Regions from separate parts of the Homo sapiens genome. Here region 2 is linked to region 1. Evidence: fine-mapped expression QTL. A gene starts in region 1. The other region holds a variant in brackets. All regions are shown on one strand. Distances are between the middles of the regions.

What was found. PIP is the estimated chance that this variant, and not a neighbour inherited with it, causes the effect.
Region 2: its variant is fine-mapped to the expression of SPG21 in blood mononuclear cells (TOPMed, PIP above 0.99).

Annotation. Positions count from the first base shown.
Region 1 is chr15:64,987,858-64,992,857 of GRCh38, reverse strand. SPG21 (SPG21 abhydrolase domain containing, maspardin) reads left to right here and starts at 2,944. Exons shown (of 9, transcript NM_016630.7): 1 at 2,944-3,193. RefSeq lists enhancers at 2,511-2,570, 2,611-2,680, 2,736-3,235, 3,236-3,737 and silencers at 2,751-3,240, 3,361-3,410, 3,213-3,507.
Region 2 is chr15:64,959,070-64,964,596 of GRCh38, reverse strand. It overlaps SPG21 (SPG21 abhydrolase domain containing, maspardin), which reads left to right. Exons shown (of 9, transcript NM_016630.7): 9 at 861-1,575. The coding sequence ends at 977. Among named protein-coding and RNA genes, the nearest start is that of SPG21, 28 kb to the left of the region's middle. The variant G/A (reference allele first, on the strand shown) is at 3,143.

The DNA of each region.
Region 1 (5,000 bases):
CTGCCGCCTCCCAGGTGGGTTCAAGTGATTATCCTGCCTCAGCCTCCCCAGTAGCTGGGATTACAGGTGTGCACCACCACACCCGGCTAATTTTTGTATTTTTAGTAGAGATGGGGGTTTTGCCATGTTGGCCAGGCTGGTCTCGAACTCCTGACCTCAAGTGATCCACCCGCCTTGGCTTCCCTCAGTGCTGGGATTACAGGTATGAGCCACTATGCCTGGCTGCTTTTAATTATTTTGATCACACAGATAATATATGAATACATTTTAATATAAACTCAACTATTAAATCCAAAGTCAAAGTTCTTCACCACTCCCTCCATCCCCAGTTCCTCCTCCGAGGTAATCACTTAGCTGCTTGGTACATACCTCTCCAAACATTTTAAAAAGTGCATTCACAGCTGGGCGCAGTGGCTCACGCCTGTAATCCCAGCACTTTGGGAGGCCGAGGCGGGAGGATCACGAAGTCAAGAGATCGAGACCATCCTGGCCAACATGGTGAAACCCCGTCTCTACTAAAAATACAAAAATTAGCTGGGTGTGGTGGCAGGCACCTGTAGACCCAGCTACTCGGGAGGCTGAGGCAGGAGAATAGCTTGAATCCGGGAGGCGGAGGTTGCAATGAGCTGAGATGTGCCACTGCAATCCAGCCTGGCAACAGAGCAAGACTCCGTCTCAAAAAAAAAAAAAAGTGCATTCACTTATGTATACACATGCATAGGGATATTTCTGGATCTGGGATTATTTTGTGTGTTTTCAAACAAATATTATCCTGTGAAAAGATAAATTAAGAGGGACAGAGCCCGGGTTTGGGTAATTCTGAGAGCCAGCTGGCCATCTGTTTACTTTGCTTGGTGTTCACAGCATATTTTGTGAACATTCCAGTTTTTCTGTGAGATTCTCACAGATGAATTGGTGCTGTGGGAACCATCTGGCAGACCCCAGCCACAACAGCTGCAAATCCTTACAGCCATGTCTACCAGGTCAGCCTGCACTGGGACCTGCCTGAATCAAAAGTTTGCTGCCTGAATTTGTGCATTACAATTCAGCTGGAATTCACAGATATTAAATGTTCTTTGTTGGGATTAGGAAAGGGACAATGTGCTTGCCATGTGTTATGGAACAACTGAGGACACAAACATGACCATGGTTTCCCTTCCTGAAAGAAGTAAAACATTTATTATTTTTGGATTGGTCTACATTGTAATAAAAGTTGATATGTAACAAAACATATCTACATAGTGATTTTTTTTTATTGTCAATTGTCAAAGTTTACTACCACACTAACAGAACAATGACTTTTAACATACGGGTATATCCATAGATTAGGTCTCATTAAAGCTGTTACTAAATGGGGTCTAGGGATGGGGTCTAAGGAATACAGCTTTAGGAACAAATGTGGAAATGGGGATAGATTTATTTATTCCACTCATTAATTCATTCAATATAGTTTTTTGTTGGGAGCAGACAAGGTCTCTCGCTTTGTCACCTAGGATGTGGTGCAGTGGATTCGACATCTGGGCTTAACAGATTCTCCCATCTCAGCCTCCTGAGTAGCGGGGATTACAGGCATGCGCCACCACGCCCGGCTAATTTTTGTATTTTTTTGTACAGACAGGGTCTCCCAGGTTGCCCAGGCTAGTCTCGAACTCCTGGGCTCAATCAAGCGATCCGTCCACCTTGGCCTCCCAAAGTGCTGGGATTACAATCAATATACATTTAGTACCTATTATTTATGGGCTAATCATGTGCTAATGGACTGGTGGAATCACTCTATTCCCTTTGCTCTAGATTGAAGCTTCGAGACCACCTGGGAAAATAGACAACTAATGTAATGAATATCCATAACCAGTTTCAGAGACAACCAGTAGTTTGCAAGTTATTCCACCCATTAAACGATTCCAAATGTTGGAGAAAAGGCCCCCAACTTAAAATACTCCACGGAAACGTGCTCTATACATCTATGTGGTGCTTACAATAAAAGATGAATTCCTGCGACTGAGTTGCAACCCCGAAAGAAATGATTTAGAGAAAAAAAGAAAGAAAGAAAAAGGTAAGTATGTCACCGTGCTTTTGGAAAATGCTTTTGGGATTTGTCCAAGTTCTAGAGTGGAACCCAAGGCTCCTGGGCCAGGGGACAGAAGTGATAACTAAGTAGGATGCAATTTAGTTGGAATCTTCCCTGACCTTAATCCCATAAACAGTTGCCTAGGTAAAGGCAAAGTCTACAGGCCCTAAAACAGGGTACAAGCTTTCCCTAAAACATATTAGAGAGAGGCACTTTCAACAGGACCTTGTTGCAGGATCCCTAAAAAAAAAATTCAAAACAAGGAGATTTACATGTTATTCACCTTATCATAATTTCAGAAATATTTTACTAATAAAAAAGGAGTCGTGAAGTCTGGAACACCTTAAGACGTGACGTCTGCAACACCTTAAGAACAATGATTACAAATGTATTAATATTCTCTCTGATTTTAAGGGAAAAGTGATGAAGGAACAGGAAGATGGGTGGGCGTATGTTCCCAGAAATCCCCAGAACGTCAAAAAGGAAGCGGAGGCTTTGAGTGGAGGACTACGGAGAGCGTCTACGGTTGTGCCAAAGGAAAAAAAATGTTCCTAAGAAAAGAGTATACAAAGTTGTGTTCATCAAAGTCTGGAACCCAAAGGTGTCCCTCCAAAGCTGTACACGACAGAGAAAACGCGAACTGAAAGAAGAAGCAGGTCCCAAGGGGCCAGGCGCCTCCTCCACCTCCTCCTCCTCCTAGGTACGTAGGGCAGAACTAAGGCTGACCCAGACGTAACTCAGCCCTCTCCTCACGCCAGCCGCAGCCAAGCATCCCACGGAGCCTCCCCCCGCGCCCGTCGCCGTGGCGACCGCCGGGGCCACGCAGCACCGCCCCTTCCTCGCGACGTGGCCCCGCCCTCTGAGAACCCGGAAGCGGGAGTCTCGCGCCAGCTGAGCGGCGGTCGGGCGGGGGGAGCGCGGCGGCCCAAGCTCGCTCGGCCACGCGCCCCGCCCCCTCAGAGGCCGGCCTCCCGCACGCACCGCGCAGCCTGCTGTGCCCGTGGGTCCCGAGTGCTCCGCCGCCCGCCCCGACCCGGGCCCAGCCGCCTCCACGGCCCGCGCTCGTACTGGAGCGAAGAGCGGCCTCCTGAAGGAGGGGAAGGGACGTGGGGGCGGCCACGGCAGGTGAGGGTGGGCGAAGCCCTGGGAAGCGGCTGGGTGTGCGGTATGCGGGGTTGTAGGTGTGTGTGTGTGGCGCGTGGCTGCCTTGGTTGGTGTGACTTTGTGAGTGTGTTCTGAGTGGGCCGGTCCATGTGACCACGCACGTGATCACGTGCCCTTGTGAGTGTGTGTCTGGGGCCGAATCTGGGCTGTGGGGTGGTCGGTGTGCTTGTGACCCTGCCTTTGTGTGGCTGTCACCGGTGGGACTGGCGGGGAGCTGTGTGTGAGTCTCCAGCGGGAGGTGGGGGCGGCACAGGGCTTAACCGGGGCATCCTCCTGTAAACCCATCCTGGGGCTACACGACTGCAGCCCAGGAACATTTCTTTCTTTCTTTCTTTCTTTTTTTTTTTCTCAGCAAACTTTTAAGAACTGTGAGCAGAGGCCAGTAATTTTGGAGACAGGACCTCGGCCTGAAAGTGATAGATGTCTTTGTTGTTACTGAGTGTGGGCCAGGTGTAAGGTTTGTAAACGGGGGATGAGGAACAGAGCGGGACCGGAGTGTCTCATTTTTCCTCTTCTCGTTTTCCTGGGGAGTTATAAGTTAGACATTTATGCTGCTTCCTTTGTCTCCACCTACACTGGTTCAGCTCCTTTTGGCACAAAGATTCAACAAATTAAGGAGTAACTTTTTTTTTTTTTTTTTTTTTGAGACGGAGTCTCGCTCCGTCGCCCAGGCTGGAGTGCAGTGGCGCCATCCCAGCTCACTGCAAGCTCTGTCTGCTGGGTTTACGCCATTCTCCTGCCTCAGCCTCCCGAGTAGCTGGCACTACAGGCTCCCGCCACCACGCCCGGCTAATTTTTTGTATTTTTAGTAGAGACGGGGTTTCACCGTGTTAGCCAGGATGGCCTCGATCTCCTGACCTCGTGATCCGCCCGCCTCGGCCTCCCAAAGGGCTGAGATTACAGGCGTGAGCCATCGCGGCTGGCCACTGAGGAGTAACTTAATAGCTGTGTCCAAATTCCAAAAGCTTTTTTCCCAAGAGCATGAGAAGAGATGTCACAGATGTCAGGTAGGCACCTTTTCCTCCTGTAAGGTTTAGAGATAATGCAATGAAGAAAAGAGGGATAGATCTCCCCTGAAGAGATCTAAGAAAAGGATAGCTGTGTACTTCTGTGGTGAGGGATGGAGACGTGCATTAAAAAGCCAGTTGCATCTCCCAGAGACTCTCAGCTTCTAATATTTTGTTATGGCTAGTATTTATAAGCACAGATTTTCCACAATGCACATCAACTATAGATTGAAATAAAGTAGCAGAAACCTCTGACTAATTATGCTGGTTATGTGACTTAAACATTGATAAAGGTGATTTTGTTGACTTTAAAGTGGCAGGTTCTGTTGAAGCCATGAGGGATAGGGGCATAGTCACAACTGGCAGGTTTTTTTGTTTGTTTGTTTGTTTGTTTTTTGAGACAGAGTCTCACTCTGTCGCCCAGGCTGGAGTGCAGTGGTGTGATCTCAGCTCACTGCAACCTCCGCCACCCAGGTTCAAGCAATTCTCCTGCCTCAGCCTCCTAAGTAGCTGGGATTACAGGAGCCCATCACCGCGCCCAGCTAATTTGTTTTTGTTGTTGTTGCTGTTTTGTTTGTTTTTTTGAGATGGAGTTTCGCTCTCGTTGCCCAGGCTGGAGTGCAATGGCGTGATCTCGGCTCACCGCAACCTCTGCCTCCCGGGTTCAAGTGATTCTTCTGCCTCAGCTTCCTGCGTAGCTGGGATTACAGGCATGTGCCACCACGCCTAGCTAATTTTGTATTTTTAGTAGAGACGGGGCT
Region 2 (5,527 bases), 29 kb after region 1:
TAACTAAATGGATAATAGAATAGCAGTGAGGGGTGAGTGCCCTGGCAGTTTGGCAAGATGAATCAAGAGCCTTAAAAAACCAGTTATATCCTGGCCACGCATGGTGGCTCACACCTGTAATCCCAAAAACCAGTCATATCCCTTGATCCTGTCATCCCCTTATAGAAGACAGGATCCTAAACAGGAATACTTGATGCCCAGAGATATTCATCATAGCAGCACTAGTCACAGTAGCAGAAGATTGGAAGGACCTAACTCACAGCAGCAGAAGGGAAGGGTAAACATCTCATGAGCATGCACCATCTAAGATGTCTCAGGAGACTCTGCAGGGACTCAGGGAGACTGCTCAGGGAGTGAGGAACAAAGATCCCAAATGTGGTTTCAAAAAATTGTTTGACTTTTCTCTATTTAGTATGTCTTAGTCTGTAAATTTTAGAAGTATAAAACATTTGTCCACTATGGTGATGTTTTCCTACCAAACTTTTTATAGAAGGCAGTATACATTTTACTCTGTAATGCAGCCATTTAAAACAATGATTCTGGCAGGGTGCAGTGGCTCACACCTGTAATCTGGCACTTTGGGAGGCCGAGGCAGATGGATCACTTGAGGCCAGGAGTTCAAAACCAGCCTGGCCAACATGGTGAAACCCTGTCTCTACTAAAAATACAAAAATTAGCTGGGCATGGTGGCGGGCACCTGTAATCCCAGCTACTCGGGAGGCTGAGGCAGGAGAATTGGGTGAACCCGGGAGGCGGAGGTTGGAGTGAACCAAGATAGTGCCACTGCACTCCAGCCTGGGCAACAAGAGTGACACTCCAGCTCAAAAAATAAATAAAATAATGATTCTGCATTTCAACAGATACATTTGCTGCAATTCCATGGAACCAAATACGCGGCCATTGACCCATCAATGGTCAGTGCCGAGGAGCTTGAGGTGCAGAAAGGCAGCCTTGGCATCAGCCAGGAGGAGCAGTAGTGTGTCTCTCGCTGTCAATGATGAGTTGACCCGGTGTGTTCTTGTATAGTCAGTGGCATCAGCACCCGTCAGCCAGCCTTTTCCTTCAGGTTCGTCAGGCTCACCGGTTCTCACTGTGTCTGGGAAGTAGGACTGATGGTCATCTTCATGACAGGCGGCATCTCCACTAAGCCTGTGTAACTGTTCCCTCTTTGGTTTTCTTAGCTTTTGAATTTGAAGAAGTACTTTTGAAGACTCCCATTTTAAGAACCGTGCAAATTTTGCTACCAAAAGTCTTCACCACTGTGTTCTTAAGTGAATGTTAATTTCTGAGGTTTGGGACTTTGTGGTGGTTTTTTTCTTCTTTTCTTTTCCATTCTTCTTTCTTTCTTTTTATGTTGTTTGCTGTAAATGCTGCACATCCAGATTGCATATCAGGACATTGGTTATTTTATGCTTTCTTGGATATAACCATGATCAGAGTGCCATGGCCACTACCCCACTGTTTGCTCTCCTGCAAATCAACTGCTTTTAATTTACACTTAAACAAATTGTTTTGAGTGTTAGCTACTGCCTTTCTAGATATTAGTCATTTGGAATAAAAATTCAATTTAACTGAGTCGCTTTTGTGATTATTGTTGCTGCCCAACTGGGCTACACAGGCCTAGGACTTTCTGAGAAGTAGGTCATGGTTGCCAATTCTGTGTGACTTTGGGTAAGTTACTTAATCTCCCTGAAGTACAGTTTGCACATCATAAAATAACCCTAAGCTATCATTTATTGATCTGCTACTGTGTGCCAGGTACTTTTCTCGTCTTCTTTCCCCTGAGTGAAAATGCTTAAACCCACATGAAGTAGAGAAAATGGCATAATGAATGATGTTCCCATCATCCAGCTTCAAAAATTATCAACTCTCAGACAGTCTTGTTCATCTTTTCTTTTTTTTTTTTTTGAGACAGAGTTTCGCTCTTGTTGCCCAGGCTGGAGTGCAATGACGTGATCTCGGCTCACCGCAACCTCCGCCTCCCGGGTTCAAGCAATTCTTCTGCCTCAGCCTCCCAAGTAGCTGAGATTACAGGTATGCACCACCACGCCCGGCTAATTTTGTATTTTTAGTAGAGATGGGGTTTCTCCATGTTGGTCAGGCTAGTCTCGAGCTCCTGACCTCAGGTGATCTGCCCACATCAGCCTCCCAAAGTGCTGGGATTACAGGCATGAGCCACCATGCCCGGACTTGTTCATCTTTTAACCTACCCACGTTTCTTCCACACATGCTCCTATCACTAAATTATTTTAAAGCCATTTCTGGTGCTGTGTCATTTCATCTGTAAATATTTCTATGTGTACCTTTAAGATACAGCCTTAATACCATTATCACACTTAAAAATTTACCAATAATTCCTTCAATTATTTACCAATAATTCCTTCACTGGATTGTCTAATAATCCAGTGAATGTTGTCACTCACAATTATTCCATAAATTTTTTTTTATAGGTGACTTGTTCTAATCATATAAAGCCCACACTTTGTCTCTTAGATCTCTTTTGAACTGGAAGCTCCTCCTCCCTCTATTTTTTCTTGCCATATATTCAGTGAAGAAACAGGTTCATTTGCCCTGTAGTTGCCCCACAGTCCAGATTTGGCTGACTGTGGCCTCATGGTGTCCTTCCACTTGTTTCTCTGTCCCTGGTATTTCCTGTAAACTGGTAGTTACATCAAGAGGCTTGATCAGGTCAAGCTCGATCTTTTTGGCAGGAACACTGCATAGATGGGGCTGTGTGTTTCTCTCGCGTCATCTCAGGAGGCATCTGTCTGGTTGTGTCTAAGTTATTATGATTGCTGGGTGTGTTCAGGCATCACCAGCCTGATCCAGTCCTGAGAAAGTCCCCTGCTGGCTTAGCTGCCACTGCTGACCATTGCACAGGTGCATCATTCCATGAGGGGTTGCAGGTCAGTGATAATATTAATTTTTATCATTCCTTCTGCATTTATTAACTGGAAATTACCGATTTAAAAAAACAAAAACTTGCCCTCATCGACTGCTTGGTTTCGCTGAGATACAATTTAGACAGAAAAATAAGCATCAGTGCTTCTTTCCCTTTATGTGCCAGGTTTCAGAATATTGGGTTGGCCATACCTTCTTAGACTTCATCCCCAATACAGCCCTGATTATCCTGACTTTACAG[G/A]TGAGGACCTGGAGACTGGGTCAGGCAGTAAGGGGTGGAGCTGGGATGCCACCTTGAATCTGACCATCCCTAAAGCCAGTGATCTTTCCACAAAGGGGCCACATTGTCTTCTCTATCTGTGGCTTGACAACAGTCATGAGTTATGGAAACACTTGGTAAACCATAAGGGCGAAGCTTGACATTTTAACTAGTAGCGTCTGAGGCTACTAGAGCCGTCTAACAACTTTAACTACTCCCCAGCTCTGCCCCCTGATGACTGCAAGTTGTCATTGCCAGCCCTGATCAATTTTGAGTACTGGCCTTGAATGCGTACTCAGGCCTATTAGGCCAGCCTTCAACAGGCATCTCAGCCTTCGACAGGCAACCAGTCAAAAGCTATGCCCATGGCCCCACTGCCCAAACCTGCCCTTCCTCTTCTAGCCCCATTTTCTTAGGTCCTGGCATCACTATTTCTTGGAATCCCCAGTTAGAAACTCAGCCATCTTGGACCCTCCACCCCCACTCACTCCTCCACCCCCATGTCTCAGGCTGAAGCGGATGCAGAGATGAAAATTTGGGTGCAAGATGTTTATTAAGGATCAACATCTGTGGCCTGGTGTGGTGGCTCACACCTGTAATCCCAGTACTTTGGGAGGCCAAGGGGAGTGGATCACCTGAGGTCAGGAGTTCAAGACCAGCCAGGCCAACATGGAGAAACCCAGTCTCTACTAAAAATACAAAAAAATTAGCCAGACCTGGCGGCACGTGCCTGTAATCCCAGCTACTCAGGAGGCTGAAGCAGGACAATCACTTGAACCAGAGTGGCAGAGGTTACGGTGAGCTGAGATGGTGTCACTGCACTCCAGCCTGAGCAACAGAGTGAGACTCAATCTCCAAAACAAAACAAAAAAACAACATCTGTGAAGGGAAGATGGATTGGGCAGAGAGCGAAATTGAACTGTGATGCAGGCCCGATCAAGTACCCACCAACTCAGTAGGGCACGCAGGAGCTTGAAGCACCCACTGGAATATTTTCATGGAGGACTAAAATGGCTGGGTCTCTATGCTCCCGCGTAGCTCAGTTCCCAGAGGCAGCTGCCCTGGGGAGGGCAGGGTGTTGGGTGGGGCAACTCTCTGCAGCTGAGGCAGACCCTGAAGGGCTGACAGCTGGAGGCCATCTGCCCAGCTCACTCCTGCAGCTGGATGGAAAGGCCTTCCTGGAAGAAGGGGGTCCGGGCAATGCATTTCCACATCTACTACACCTATATCCCCTGACTCTCAGAGATCTAGCAACTTGCCTGCAAACTTGAGCCTTCCTCACTACAAGTTAGGCCTTGGCATCTTTTGCCCAGACTACTACAGTCCTCACTGGCTCCACCAGCCATCTCCTCCCACCCCCACCCATCCTCTGTGTGGTCCACACACAGGTCTGATCTTGTCACTTGCCAGTGCATGAACACTAAGGGACCTCTGTTGTGGAAATCAGACTAGTTTCAGAAACTCTGAAGTGGGGCTGTAACCATTTAGTGAAGCTCTGCACACAGGAAGAGATGCGGGGAGCAACCTCCACTAAGAGCCAGGGACTCCTTCACCTCAGTTCTTAACCTGGGAGTTTTATGGGTTCATTTTGATACATGATGTGATCCAGGGCCTGTACCCGCTTCTAGAAGTTATCTTGGGATCCACAGGAGAAAGACTTCGCACTTTTTAAGTATATAAACCTGCAGACTATATGTGAATAGTTTTAAGTACAGTATATATCTTAAAAAGGGGCCAGGCACAGTGGCTCACGCCTGCAATCCCAGCACTTTGGAAGGCCAACCCAGGCAGATCACGAGGTCAGGAGATCAAGACCATCCTGGCCAACATGTTGAAACCCCATCGCTACTAAAAATACAAAAAAAAATTAGCTGGGCGTGGTGGCATGTGCCTGTAATTCCATCTACTTGGGAGGCTGAAGAGGAGAATCGCTTGAACCAGGGAGTCGGAGGCTGCAGTAAGCCGAGATCGCACCACTGCACGCCAGCCTGGCAACAGAGGAAGACTCCGTCTCAAAGAAAAGGGAGGGAGTAACTGTAAGTAAATATCCATTGGAAAAGTGATTTAAATATACATTTTAGAAACAAGGAGAGTCACAATTAGCAAGGTAAAGTAGACTCTGAAAGGACAAGCAGATGTGCATTTCCAAAGGCGGAGTCTATTCTGTTCAGTTTCTACTTTATGAGACATCTAATTTTTGGTGATGGGGTGGGGAACAATTTCCAATGCATCTGCACCCCTCCCCCTCCTGCCCCTCAGGTCACAGCTCCCCCTCCTTCCACGCATCCTGTGCTCCAGCCACGCTACTCCCCAAGGTGGGGGGTCCCTCTCCACACCTCTGGGCTATTGCTTAGGCTGTGCTGTTGG